3 separate regions of the Homo sapiens genome follow, and regions 1 and 3 are each linked to region 2. The links come from fine-mapping of genetic effects on gene expression. A gene starts in region 2. Each other region holds a variant in brackets. All regions are shown on one strand. Distances are from middle to middle.

Region 1 (4,225 bases), 140 kb before region 2:
TTCTTACTTCCCTATCAAATATCCCTTATAATCTTACAGAGTTTTGCAAAGCAAAATAAGAGTGTTGAGACTAGGATCTTTTAAGAGAAATAATGTCTATTAGCCTCTGTGTACCACATTAAATGAATTCATCAACTTCACTAATGATGCCCAATTCTAAATAACCTTAAACTCCATTCTGCCACAAGAGACACTCAATTATATAAGGATACTTTGTGCTACATGACAGATTTATACCAAAATGTACTGAATTCTTTATCATATTGTGGAATTGTGCAAAATGTCAATGTATTTCTTTCATATTGAAAATCAATTTTTTAAAAAAGTTCTCAGACTAAACATAAAACATATTTAGCACTATTATTAAGTCATAAAACTAATAATAAATCATTAAGTTTCAGTTAAATTTAGACCAAGTGTGTCACAGTCCAAGGCTCTGACCAAGACCAGGTCTAGGATTCTACCATCTTCTCTATAAACATGTATGGGTTGCCTGAATCACCACTTTGTAATACAAATGATCTCCTGTTACCTCTCCCCGGTCATCTGTGCTACGTGCAAAGTCCATTATCCGGTCAACCTCCACATAATCTGGATTAAAAAGCTCATCCTCAATCTACACCAAAGGGAAAAAAAAAAGTTAAAGGTTTACTTATTTCCTAAGATGAAATACTATTCCACTTTTCACCAAGCAATAATATTTTGGGTCACAGCAATATAAAACTTACATTTGGCAAATTCTATTATATTAATTGAAATGCTACAATTTAGCAAAATCACTCCCCATGAGGAAATCAGACTTCTCAGACTTCGTTAACTGGGTCTTTTAATTACCGTGTGAAACCTTTTACTGTGAGAGAATGTTTAAGAATATTTTAAATGAAGTGTGAAATTACAATTCACTAATGAGCAATCCAAAAGGCTTATGGCATGCGATGCATTTAGCATTCTCGAAACTACAGTTTGCAATGAAGAATCAGAGTCATGCAAAGTGTTACTTGGAATATTGTAACTCCTGGAGTTGTCCGATGCCTTATAGCATATCTACAAAATGTTATTCAAAAGCCAAATACACTGCAAGCAGCTAATTTCATATTTTAGCATGATCAGAGTTTATAATGTTTGGTAGTATTTGTCAACCAATATTAGTACCTCATTTAGAATCACAGTCTCATCATTAATCTGTTTTCTAATGATTTACATTGAATATAGTGTGTTTAGGCAAAAGTATTAAGGATAACGAAATGAAGCCTAAATAATTGGCTCATTTAACCAATATATTAAACAATCTTTACAAAAGTAAAGTAATACTGCTGCCTGCAAAGGTATCTCATATAAAACACTAGAATATGACTCAAAAAAAAGTTATAGGCTGGGCACAGTGACTCACGCCTGTAATCTCAGCACTTTGGGAGGCCAAGGCAGGCGGATCACGAGGTCAGGAGTTCAAGACCAGCCTGGCCAACATGGTGAAACCCCGTCTCTACTAAAAATACAAAAAATAAGCTGGGCATGATGGCAGGTGCCTGTAATCTCAGCTACTCGGTAGGCTGAGGCAGGAGAATCGCCTGAACCCGGGAGGCGGAGGTTGCAGTGAGCCGAGATCGCACCACTGCACTCCAGCCCAGGTGACAGAGGGCGACACTCCGTCTCAAAAAAAGAGTTATAGACTAAGCCATACCCAAAAGAAGTTAGGGTCAGACAAGTTTCAGATGTTAGAAAACAAAAGACACATTTTATTATGTGCACCTCTCAATTAACTTATCAATAACATAACTGCATTAAAATATTTTGCAAAAGGTAAACTAGAAGTCACTTAGACACCATTCTTATCCCTTGAATTGCAGGTGGAAAAGATAAGCAGTTCAGTCATCATCTGCTCAAGAACAACAAACTTTCTCTGGCTATTCGGCCCTCTTAAAA[C/T]ACCCAGTTGGGAAGCTTTGAACCATGAATTATGAAACAAAAAGCAGAAACACAAACATATGTCTCAAGTATCTCAGGCTTTTACACAGAGGTAGATTAGTAAGGCAAAAAAAAATCCATTGAAATGTTCAATTAATATAAAGTATTAGTGTATTAATGCACTGGCTTTTCAAAAGCTTCTAGACGTAGGTAAACACACGTGTTATCCATGTACAGCAGAAACACTTAAACTTTCCCAAAACTAGGTTTGGATGGCAAAAACTCTCTTTAGGAAAACTTGTTCTTAAACATAAGCTTTCACAGTCAGTGCTGAATTAAAATCCTTAACTTTTCCTACACATTTCTACCCTTTAAGTGAGTAATCTGCGGCATCACACATGTGACGAAATTTCCAGTCTAAATGATGTTTTTGAATAGACATTTTTAGTTGCAGCAGGCTTGTAAGGCAGCCTAAGGAGAAACAAAGAATGTAAAAGCAGCTGAAACTGAAAATCTCAAAGCAGTACAGCCATGGAACACCTGAAGCCATGATCATGTATGGGATGAAACAAACGGGGGCGTGTGCACTTTCATGTATAAAAGAGAGGGAGGAAGGGGATTGCTATCCTTCTCTGCTAACTCCCACTCAGGACAGAAACTAAGATTTCTAGCTGCCAAGTTACCAGGTAAATAATGTACATTCAACCTTGGTATGTGTAGCTAGGGCTAGGCACAATTTCCTAAAGACAGTGTGACTACAGGAGAGAGAATACAAATAAACTTAATAAACAGGACCAGGATTTAGGGATGGGGGGAAAGCTACCATTGCGCTTTTGCCTGTCTCCCTCCCCCTGGCCCACAGAAAAGGTCAGCAGAACACAGGGTGTCTCTTTCTAAAAGGAGGCTAATGATTTCAGCTCATCCAATGTCATAAAAATTTAACTCTGGTTTCATTAAGAAGGGCATGAAAAATAGAATCTCACAGCATTGTCCTCAAAATCAAATATTAAGATTCTTTCTTCAAAAGAATTTTCCTCCAAGTTCTTCTGAAGAATCTTCTTAATATTCTCCAAGATCTATGAATTGAGTCACATTCGAGTAACTCCATTCCACTCGGTCCTAAACACTGCACTGCCAAAAATGCTGCACACTCAGAGTGCCAGGGGTAGTGATGCAGACATGTGTCCAGTAAAAGAACAACCACATGATCTCCCATTGAATGCGGACTTTACCATAGGCCAGTTGGGACCATGGAAATCAGATCCCAGAAGAACACAGACTTGCTACCTGATAGTATAAGAATTTTATGACATAAAAGTACTAAGTGCTCTTCTGTCCCACTTTCCTTCATCTCCAAAAAGGGGTGGCAGTACAAAGTAGGTTGTTAAACAGATACTATTTTGCATCAAATTGTACGCTTCTTTTACATAAAGTCTACATTCTGTCAACTCTTTTAGGAAAAGAGGAACTAATAAATCAGCAAGTCTTATCTTTCAATGTTAGGGTTTTTCTTTTATCTACTTGAGGCTGTAAGTGAAACCAAATTGGCGATCCTAAGTCCAGAGACCCTAGTAAGCAGCTTGTGAAAGCACTTTTTAAAAAATGTAATTGACTATACTGAGGAGGCAGAGGGCAGAACTGGCACTTCTAGTAAATGCAGATGTTCTTCTCTGCCCTAGGTATTGCTGTACTTCTATACTGATACCTGGGATAAAGGGACACAGGCAAAGATATTATTACCAGTTTCTACACTACAGCACAGCATTTGCGAAAATGAGTTTAGTGAACTCTCTGTAATTAGGCATTGACTTCAACAAAAGAAATTTGCCACATACTTTCCCCAACAGAAGTCAAGCTTTTGTATCTTAGAACTTGTACTTAACATTGTAGATTTCTTAACCTGCTAAATCTCAATAGAACTTCTGTCCACTTACTTAATTTCATCATCTGCTAACTGTACTTTCATTACACGATTTTTATCATACCATCACCGCTATTTCCACATAATATCATAAGGACCCATATCTTCTAGCCTAAGCAACAGGAAGAATGAGAAATTTCCTGTTTACAAATTTGTTAGCAAGAACCAGTTACCAATATGCAAGTTGACAGCACCAAATGAGACTAACTAGTTTTTCTTAATTCATGGAACTAAAATTTTAAATTTAGAACATTTTAACAAAGTAAATACTTTGGAAAAGTAAGCAGGTATGTCGTACCTCTGAAAGGAACTTGTTCTGGCCCTGCTTTGCCTTAAATCGTTTAATTTTTTGCTGAATTCTCTTATCTTTTTCCAGATCTTCTATAGATGCCCACTGACAAT
Region 2 (4,243 bases):
TGATGGCTGCTCGGGGCCGGCGGCTCCTTCCCCAGAGCCTCCCGACCAGCGCCCCCACCCCCGCCCGGGAGCCGCCGCCGCCGCCGCCCCCGCCCCCCCCCCCCGCGACCTCGACAGCCCCGCGCCGCCGCGCCCGCCCCGCACCGCAGCCCAGCCGGTGCCCGCGCCCCCGCCCGAGCCCCGCGCCCCCAGCGAGCCCAATCCCCGGTGCGAACCAAACAAACAACGCGTCCCCCACCGCCCTCCTTTCCTCTCCCCGCTGACCGCTTGGCCTCCAGCCACCTCGGCCGTTCACGCTCCAAGCCGCGGCTCTCTGCGAGGGCAGAGCGCACCCGGGTCACCTCGGGGGCCACCTGGTGACCACCCCCCACCGGCGCTGACCCCCGGCGGGTTGGGGGGCGGGGGAGCCGAGTTGCGTTGGAAGGTTAAAGTCGCTATTATGCAGCTGCCGCCGCCGGCGGCCCGGCCAGCTCGACAAGGTGGGGTCCCCTCCTCGCCGCGCCTCCCGGCGCTCGCCCCGGCCCCGCTCCCTTTCTTCTCCTCCTAGCGCACTTGGGAGCCGCCGGGGAGCCCCAGGAGCCCCCAACTCCGGGCTCGCAACTCCGCGCCCGCGACCGGCACTGGCTGAGCTCGGGACGCCTCCCGCGCCGCGTGTTCGCGCTGCCCCCGCCCCACGCGGCGCCCCGCGCACTTTCCCCGCCGCCGACCCACCTCGCTCGGTGGCGGTCCCCGCGCGGGCTGGCGCCGCCGCGCCGGGAGGAACGCACTTTGTTCGCGCCGGTGCGGCCGCAGCTCCCGGCGAGCGCGGCGTGGTCGGTCCGGAGCGGGGGGCGGGGGCGGGAGGCGGGGGTCGCCGCCGTCCCCGAGCCGCCGCCGCCGCTGCTCAGCCGCCCCGCGCCCGCGCGCCCATCGCCCGCTCGCACTTGAGTTGGAGCCCAACTTTTCCTCCTTCCTTTTTCTCTCGAATGGAGCCGGCAACTCGTGCTCGGCGCCGGCGGGAGGAAACGCGCTCGCGCTCCCCCGCGCGCAGACACGCTCCCTCCTGTCCCCCGTACCCCCCCCCCACGCCGGCAGCACAACAAAAAGCCATTTACATGCGAGGAAGTGACCCTCGGCCGCACCGCGCGCCCCCGCCGCCGCCGGCCCGGCGGACGCAGGCAAAAGTTGGGGCGCCGGGCGGCGCTCGGGGCGCGGGTTCGGGCCCCGCGGGCGGCGACGCCGGCGACACTACGCGGGCGGCGCTGCGCTCCTGCGCTGGCCCCGGCCCCCTCCCGCCCTCGCCCCTCGCCCCTCGCCCCGCACACGCCCAACTCCTCGCTCCCAACTCCTAGCGCGGCCCCGGCCCCGGCCCGGAGCGATTTCCTGCCGCCGCCGCCGCCGCCGCCCCTCCCGGGGGCGCCGGGCGAACTCTCGCGCTCACCGGGTCGGTCGGGCTCCTCCGCTGCCTAGTGCCGAGGGGAAAACAAAACGCAGAGCGGGCTCCGGAGTTGGCTCGGCAGCTGCGGCCAGGGGGCTGAATCCACGGGCACGGAGTTGGCCGGGGGCGAACGGGTCTCTGGTGAGTTTCAGGGTGTCCGGGTCCCCGGGCCGCCTCCTCCGCGGCGCTCCTTTGTGTAATTTCACTCGATTCAAGTTTAATCCGATAGTTCCCGAGCACGAGCGCGTCCGCACCACCACGACTCAACCCCCGCGCCGCCGCCGCCGCCGCCGCTGCCGCCGCCGCCGCCGCCGCCGCCGCGGCCCCAGCACGCCAGCGCCTGCGCGCGTCCGGCACGCCGCGCGCACCCGAAGCCGCGGGGCCGCGCGCGCCCGCCGCCAGCTCCCTCCGGGCCGCGCCGCGCCCGCGCCCGCGCCCGCGCGCCGCCACCTGACGTCAGGCGCGCCTGGCATAATTTATGCAAGAATTCGGCCGGGGTGGCGGAGGCCGAGGGAGAGGCCGAGAGAAAAGGGGCGGCGCGGAGCTGCTGGGCCGCGGGCCGCGGGCCGCAAGGGCGGGCCGGGCGCCACTTCCCGTCCCCTGGCGGGCGCCGGCGCTTCAGGCGGGTCTCCCCGCCGGCCGGTGCGCTGCTGCCGCGGAGTCTTCCTTGCCCGGCTGCACGGAGCGCTCGGCCGCTGCGCCCGGGCGCGGACTGGAGGGGCTGCTGCCACGTCTCCCGCGCGGCACCTTCCCGGAGCCGGGTGCGCCGCCCCGGGGCAGGAAGCGGGGCTCCGGGAGGGCTGCGACCCTCCTGGCTGCCGCGAAGGGTTTCCGACGCTGCGCGGCCGGCGGCGGCCGGGGGTGACTGGCAGTCTCTGCAGTAATTATCCTTCAACTTGAAATTATTTTCCCACATGAAATTATTCGGAAGGGACATGTTCCATTCCAGATGGGTTCGTGCCTGCTTCTCCACATCGCTTTTCCCACCTCTTCGTGGATAGGACACCGGATCCACTACTTAATCAAAAAGTTTAACTAGATGGCATTGATTTTGTCGAATTTGTTACCATACCAAAAAAGAGAGAGAAGGCAGAGAGCTCAATGATTATGAAACAAAGAAATAGGATGTATGCCCATTATTAAACGTGTCGGGACTAGAATGTTTTACTCATTCTTTGGCCAAAATGGCACTTGTATCTGATTGCATAGTCTTAAAAATCCGAGCCTCTTATTCCATTTCTCTTCCCGGTACAAAATGAATGTTAAACCTGAAGAAAAAAAACTTTTTTTTACTAATTTTTATTTTAGGAAATAGATCTACAAACATGGATTAAGCCTCTTCTATCTGCAAAATACGGAGCAATTATAATGTGTTTAAACCATCAATTGTAAACTTTAAGATAATTTTATTAGGTTAAAGATTGCACTTATTTTAAAATCAGGAAAGGAACTCATATCAACCAAAGATTGCCCTATGGCAGGTACAGACTGACTGGTTATTACTGGACTCCAAAATAAACTGAGAAAATAGCAAAACTATGTAAAATGTACTAATCTCACTCACTGATGGTTACACTACCTGTAGTGCTAAGCCTGTAATCACAATATTGTTATTTGGACAAAAGATTAATCAAAACTATCTCATTAAGTAACTACTGCAACTATTCAATAAGTTTGATTATCCTAGACTTAATCACTAAGACATTGATTTTCTGATTTTAGTAATAATTCTATAAATATATCACATTATATTGTGGTTTGTTAAATGCACTGCTTTTAGCTTGCTTTCATCATGTATTTGAGTTTTGTTCTAAAAGAAATAAATGTTTTAATGTTTAAGGAGCTTACAGATCATCAAAAAGAACATAGAAGACAGTACAGAAAGAATTCTGGCATTTAAAAAGTTGAAACCACTAAAATCAACTTCCATCTGTTTTAAACCCGGTATCACAAACCAAGAATCACAACTCTGAGGTTAGGCTACTGTTTCCATTAAGTTTATATTTCCCAATGAAAGTATATGAAAGGTGCTTTAGGGGTGTGTGGGGCGGGGGGGTCAAAAACAGGACACAATGTCTAGAAAAAAAATCGCTAGTACCTGACTATATTAGAACACATTTTTAAAATAATGTGCCATAAAAAATTATGTCTTATCTTTTACAGTGTGCCACAGCTCGATATCAGATGTGCATCTATTTCAAGGCAATTCACAGGAGAAAAAAAATGACATCTACATATAGTGAAATTACAATATTGCAATTAACTTGTTATCAACAAATATGACTATGAGGAGATTCCCTGTGCTCTTGTACATTTAACTCGAAAGCTAGGAAACTTCCTTTTGATATATACCAGTACCCAATGTAAAAACAGTCCTACAGAATATAAGTCCTCTGACTTATAGTCTCCTTATCCTGATCACTGCCCTGAGCCATCATGAAGAAGTCTCTAAGCTTTTAGATGTTGTGGTGGTGTGGAACGTAAGGGGCCTTAAAAAGTAGAGGCCCTCAGGGGCAAACTCCTAGGCAGATCTGGCCTACCTGAGTCATAGCTCTCACCACACCACCACCATCCCCCAACACTCCCCTTTAGCCTGAAATGTTTTTTCTCCATTTGCTTCACTATTGAAGTTTTCCCAATGAGAGTAATTTGAATTCACAAGCTTTCTCTTTAAGTATGCAAATACCTTAGGGTGAGATAAGGGGCTACTGGTCTTTCACAGATGAGTGTAAATTGGTTCAATGGGTTGCTTTCCTCCCAACAGCTAGCCAGAGTAACAAATTTAGAGACTTAGCCATTCATTCAACTTCGAGTGCCTAAGAGTTT
Region 3 (4,243 bases), 270 kb before region 2:
GCTTCTGCTGCTCTGTCTTCCTAATCCCTCCCTTTAGTTCTGAAGCATGAAGTGCTCCCATGACTTCCCCATATTTCTCATGCCTGCTAGAAGGCCTTGACCACAAACCTACATATTTGCCTTGACCATGGCCACAAGCCCCGTGTGGCTCCCACTGACGCAGCTGACTCAACCCTGGTCTGGATGGCCCGTTTGCAGAAGGCACTTGGTTTGGCCGCAACATGAGTCATTCTGGATAATTATAAGAATTGATAAACTCTGCAGGAACCAAATTCTGCTCTCCCATGAACTAATGCTTCTGTCCTGGTCAAGGTGGATAATGGAAGGTTATGGACACCTTTCAAGCCCCGCAGAGCTCTGCAGCTCCTCTAGCCACTTGTTCCCTTCAGGAGGCCACAAATATGCCCACTCCAAATTTGCACTCCAGCATACCTTTCTCTCCTGATATAGCACATTCAGTGGATTAAGACGGACCTGGTTTAAATCGTAGCTCTCTCACTGGACTGTGTGACCTCGGAGAAGCCACCTCACTTCTCTGAACCACAGCGTCCTCACCTCCAAACTGATGATGGCAAGCCCCCTCTCTAGACTGTTGAAGTTGGCATGGCAGGCAAGGCTTCCTGGTGCTTTACCTCAGCCCCACCTCCCCACACCCTCCCACTTCCCTGCCCACTGGAACTGCTCCCTATGCCTCTGCCTTGCTTTGGTCACTTCCTTTCTTGTTTGCATTCCTCTGCTTTTCCTGCCTTCTGTCCTTTCAGTTCCGCTTCCCTGGGAAGTTTCCAACACCCAGGATTTCCTGAGTGCCATTTCCCTGTACTGTGTGGCCACCCTGCTTACCTATCTCATAGCCCTCACTCCAATGCTTCAAAATTATTTCCACGCCTCCCTGCCTGCCTCATGAGGTCCTCCAAGGTGGGAAATTTGATTCCTTGTTTGCCATTTCCAAACTCACTGCCTGGCACATTGGACTCTAATGAAGGCGGAGGGGACTAGGATAGGAGTGTTCAAGTCACAGCGTTCTTGAGTTCTGGAAATCGAGACAATTTGTCCCTTCCATTGTCTATAACTCTGCAAAATCTGACCTCTTTGAACTGAAAACTGCCCTTAAGGGCACTGTGACACAAGCCATGGCAACTCAGCAGGAAGCCTTGTGAGCACCCCACCTACGGGCACTGGCTCTGCAGCTCCAGGTTTCAAAGGCTGAAAACTGGGGGCTGTCTATCCTACAGCCCCCGTCACGTGTGTGTACAATTGGCGACCTCTCCAATACAAACAACCCAGGAAAGACAATACCAGTCTGTTCCAAAGAGAGAGGAATTCTAAGCAGTTGCTACTTCCTGGATGACTGAGTATTCTCTACCCTGACAACATGGACAGTCTGAACAGAATTTATTCAAAACAGCTTTTCCCCCCTAGTTTCAAATTAAGAGGTGCAATGTTACCTCTGACCAGTTTGCAATAGTGGTATTGCAAACAGGGAGGCTTGCCGGAGATATTTCAGTACTGCCACCTCCATGAAGTATGCAAATTCAAGTGTAAAAACCTGAAATGAGAGTGCAGGGAAGAATGCCAACTGCATGCTCACTGTTTTCTGGGAGACCTATAGGTATAATTTCTACCTCTGATCAGTGTCATTGTGCAAATGATTTTGCATGTACCATACAGACATTTATTTTTTTAGCTTGACTATCAGGCAAAGGAGGAAAACACTATGGCCTTTTATAAGGG[G/A]AAGTGTCTCCCTAAGGAAATAATTGAAGGCCTCAATTGCTCAAGTCTTTCAAAAGACACTGTACAAAGCACCCCTGAAAACACTGTGGGGAATAATTCTGTGTTCACTGGGGAACTGGCTAGATGATCTAATAGGTCGTTGCCCTCACTCTAATTTTGATGATTCATGTGTGACTTATTTAATTGTTATCTATTGCAGATATATAAAAAAATGCTTTTATTCTTTTTTTAAGAATCTAAATTCAAATCATCTTTAATATCACCAAGTTTCTACTCCCATCTCCCTTCAGAACATTGACATATTAACTTTTTGACCTACCCCAAACCCTCCTGCTACTTCCCAGAATACAAAAAGCACATCTGCCGCACAGCTGGGTGCAACGAGGAGCCCCCACGCAACAGTGCATTGAAAACAAGTTTGGGAGAACTAAGGGTTAAGTGAAGTCCCCCAGGAATTCCAATCTGTTGCAGGCTGCTAATTCAGAAGCTGCCTGGGGCCTAGGTGTAACCACAGCTAGGAAAACAATGCCTTAGCTGCCTTATCCTGAGCAGCATTTAGCATTTATCATGGTCAGAAAACCACCTGTTACTTGGGAGAGATTCAAAGGAATTCTGAGCCATAATTAAAGCAATAATGAATAAAAACATATTGTGAATTGCTACCCAAACCCCAGGCAGATGTGTTATTTAACTGTGGGCTTGATCTGCACTATTAATTTGGAATAAAAATAACAGACAACAAAACATATACAGAATCAAGACCCTGCCTGCCCCGGGGTTTTATTTCTTTTCAAGTCCTTGGCAGTTGTGGTTAGTAACCCAAATGCAAGCAGAGCTGACTTTCTTGCAAACTGCAGTGGTGTCTGACAACACAGTAGAACAGAGCTGGCAGCCAATCGGAGTCAAATGAATCGCTGGATCCCTGTACAGATCCATAAATGACAGTTGAAGGAGATGGGCTAGTGGCATGTGCCAGTTGGGTTTGCATCCTCCCACTTCTGAGGCCTTTTGACCCGGCTGAAGCCAGGAGCAGATTTTCTCCCCCAGGGGAATGCACACCTGAGTACTCGGATCTGGCCAGGAGATAATCCTGGTTGTTTCACTGGGAAACATCTGAAAACACATTTCTCTGACTATCTGTAGAACTGCAATTAAACACAGAAACTCGACCAGGCATAGTGGCTCACCCCTGTAATCCCAGCATTTTGGGAGGCTGAGGCCAGCAGATCGCTTGAGCCCAGGAGTTCGAGACCAGCCTGGGCAATATGGCCAAACCCTGTGTCTACAAAAAAATACAAAAATTAGCCAGGCATGCTGGCAATTAGCACCTGTAGTACCAGCTAATCGGGAGTCTAAGGTGGGACGATGGCTCGAGCCCAGGAGGTGGAGGCTGCAGTGGGCCAAAATCCCACCACTGCATTCCAGTCTGGGCAAGCGAGACCCTATCTCAAAAACAAAACAAAACAAAACAACTCACAGGTAAGGAACAGTGGCAGGGAGAGGTCATCTCCTACTTAAAAGTTCTGTTCTGTTTGGCAGTGACTAGTTTGTTATTAAGGCTCTGACTCCATCTCATTAAGCTCTTTCCAAATCTTCTGAGAGGAACATGCTCTTGAGAGGGTGAGGGGAAGGACATGGGGCTGTGAACTGAAGAAGAGGGGGCAAAGCAATTTTGTGGTACGCGGGTGTTCATAACTTTGTACTACACTTTACCCTTAACAAAATTCAGATTCAGTTGACAGATCTATGCAAATGTATGAAAAGTGGAAAAAGACAAGCTAGCATTTGTTTCAGAGGTTGAAAGCATCACTTTGATTTGCAATGATTTCCAATCTACCTCTTTTTCCACAAGGAAAAATTGCAAAGACAAGATCCCTAAATGTCACAAAATAAAGCCTGCCAATGTTCTGTTGGCATATAGTTTAATTCTTGAACAATTACCCTGCCATATACATTTATTCTTAAATTTTATATATTGACACATTGAATTTTGAAACTGAAAGAGAAAATGACACATGTAAATACCCTCAAACTCAGAACTGACTTTAAAATTCGATCTATTACTGTGTATGCATGAGTGTGTGTGTACTAAATCTATGACAAGTGCAAGTTGCTGGTTTATTGCAATTGACTTAATATCACTCTCAAAGACTGAGTGTACATTCTCATGCCCTGAAAAAGTTTTGAGTAGATCTCTTCTGGGACAGGCTATCGTGTATATTTAAGACATGATCTCTACAATAGTAAAAATACATTGCACTATTATGAATTCCTAGCTGAGAGTGGTCTTTGTGTGGCTGCAGGCATACTACCACCCTGCAAAGGCTCTCCATTGCCATTCACGTTAATTGCAGACTGTCCTTCAAGACTGCCCAAGTATGACCTCAAACACCTTTTCTGGATTCCCCTTCCATTACTCAACAAACTTCAGACCAGCGATAGTGGACTCCTGGGTGCTCTATAAAGTTTGCTTATCTGGCCGGGTGCAGTGGCTCATGCCTGTAATCCCAGC

What was found. PIP is the estimated chance that this variant, and not a neighbour inherited with it, causes the effect. A credible set is the group of variants that fine-mapping cannot tell apart.
Region 1: its variant is the best candidate, but not a certain one, in a credible set for the expression of CHD7 in whole blood (TOPMed, PIP 0.71).
Region 3: its variant is the best candidate, but not a certain one, in a credible set for the expression of CHD7 in blood mononuclear cells (TOPMed, PIP 0.53).

What each region holds. Positions count from the first base shown.
Region 1 is chr8:60,816,398-60,820,622 of GRCh38, reverse strand. CHD7 (chromodomain helicase DNA binding protein 7) reads right to left here. Exons shown (of 38, transcript NM_017780.4): 8 at 4,122-4,225; 9 at 533-616. Among named protein-coding and RNA genes, the nearest start is that of CHD7, 140 kb to the right of the region's middle. RefSeq lists an enhancer at 3,532-3,631. The variant C/T (reference allele first, on the strand shown) is at 1,924.
Region 2 is chr8:60,676,260-60,680,502 of GRCh38, reverse strand. CHD7 (chromodomain helicase DNA binding protein 7) reads right to left here and starts at 1,763. Exons shown (of 38, transcript NM_017780.4): 1 at 1,421-1,763. RefSeq lists silencers at 286-655, 1,316-1,415, 1,776-2,215.
Region 3 is chr8:60,947,038-60,951,280 of GRCh38, reverse strand. No RefSeq gene overlaps it. Among named protein-coding and RNA genes, the nearest start is that of CHD7, 270 kb to the right of the region's middle. RefSeq lists an enhancer at 202-461. The variant G/A (reference allele first, on the strand shown) is at 1,732.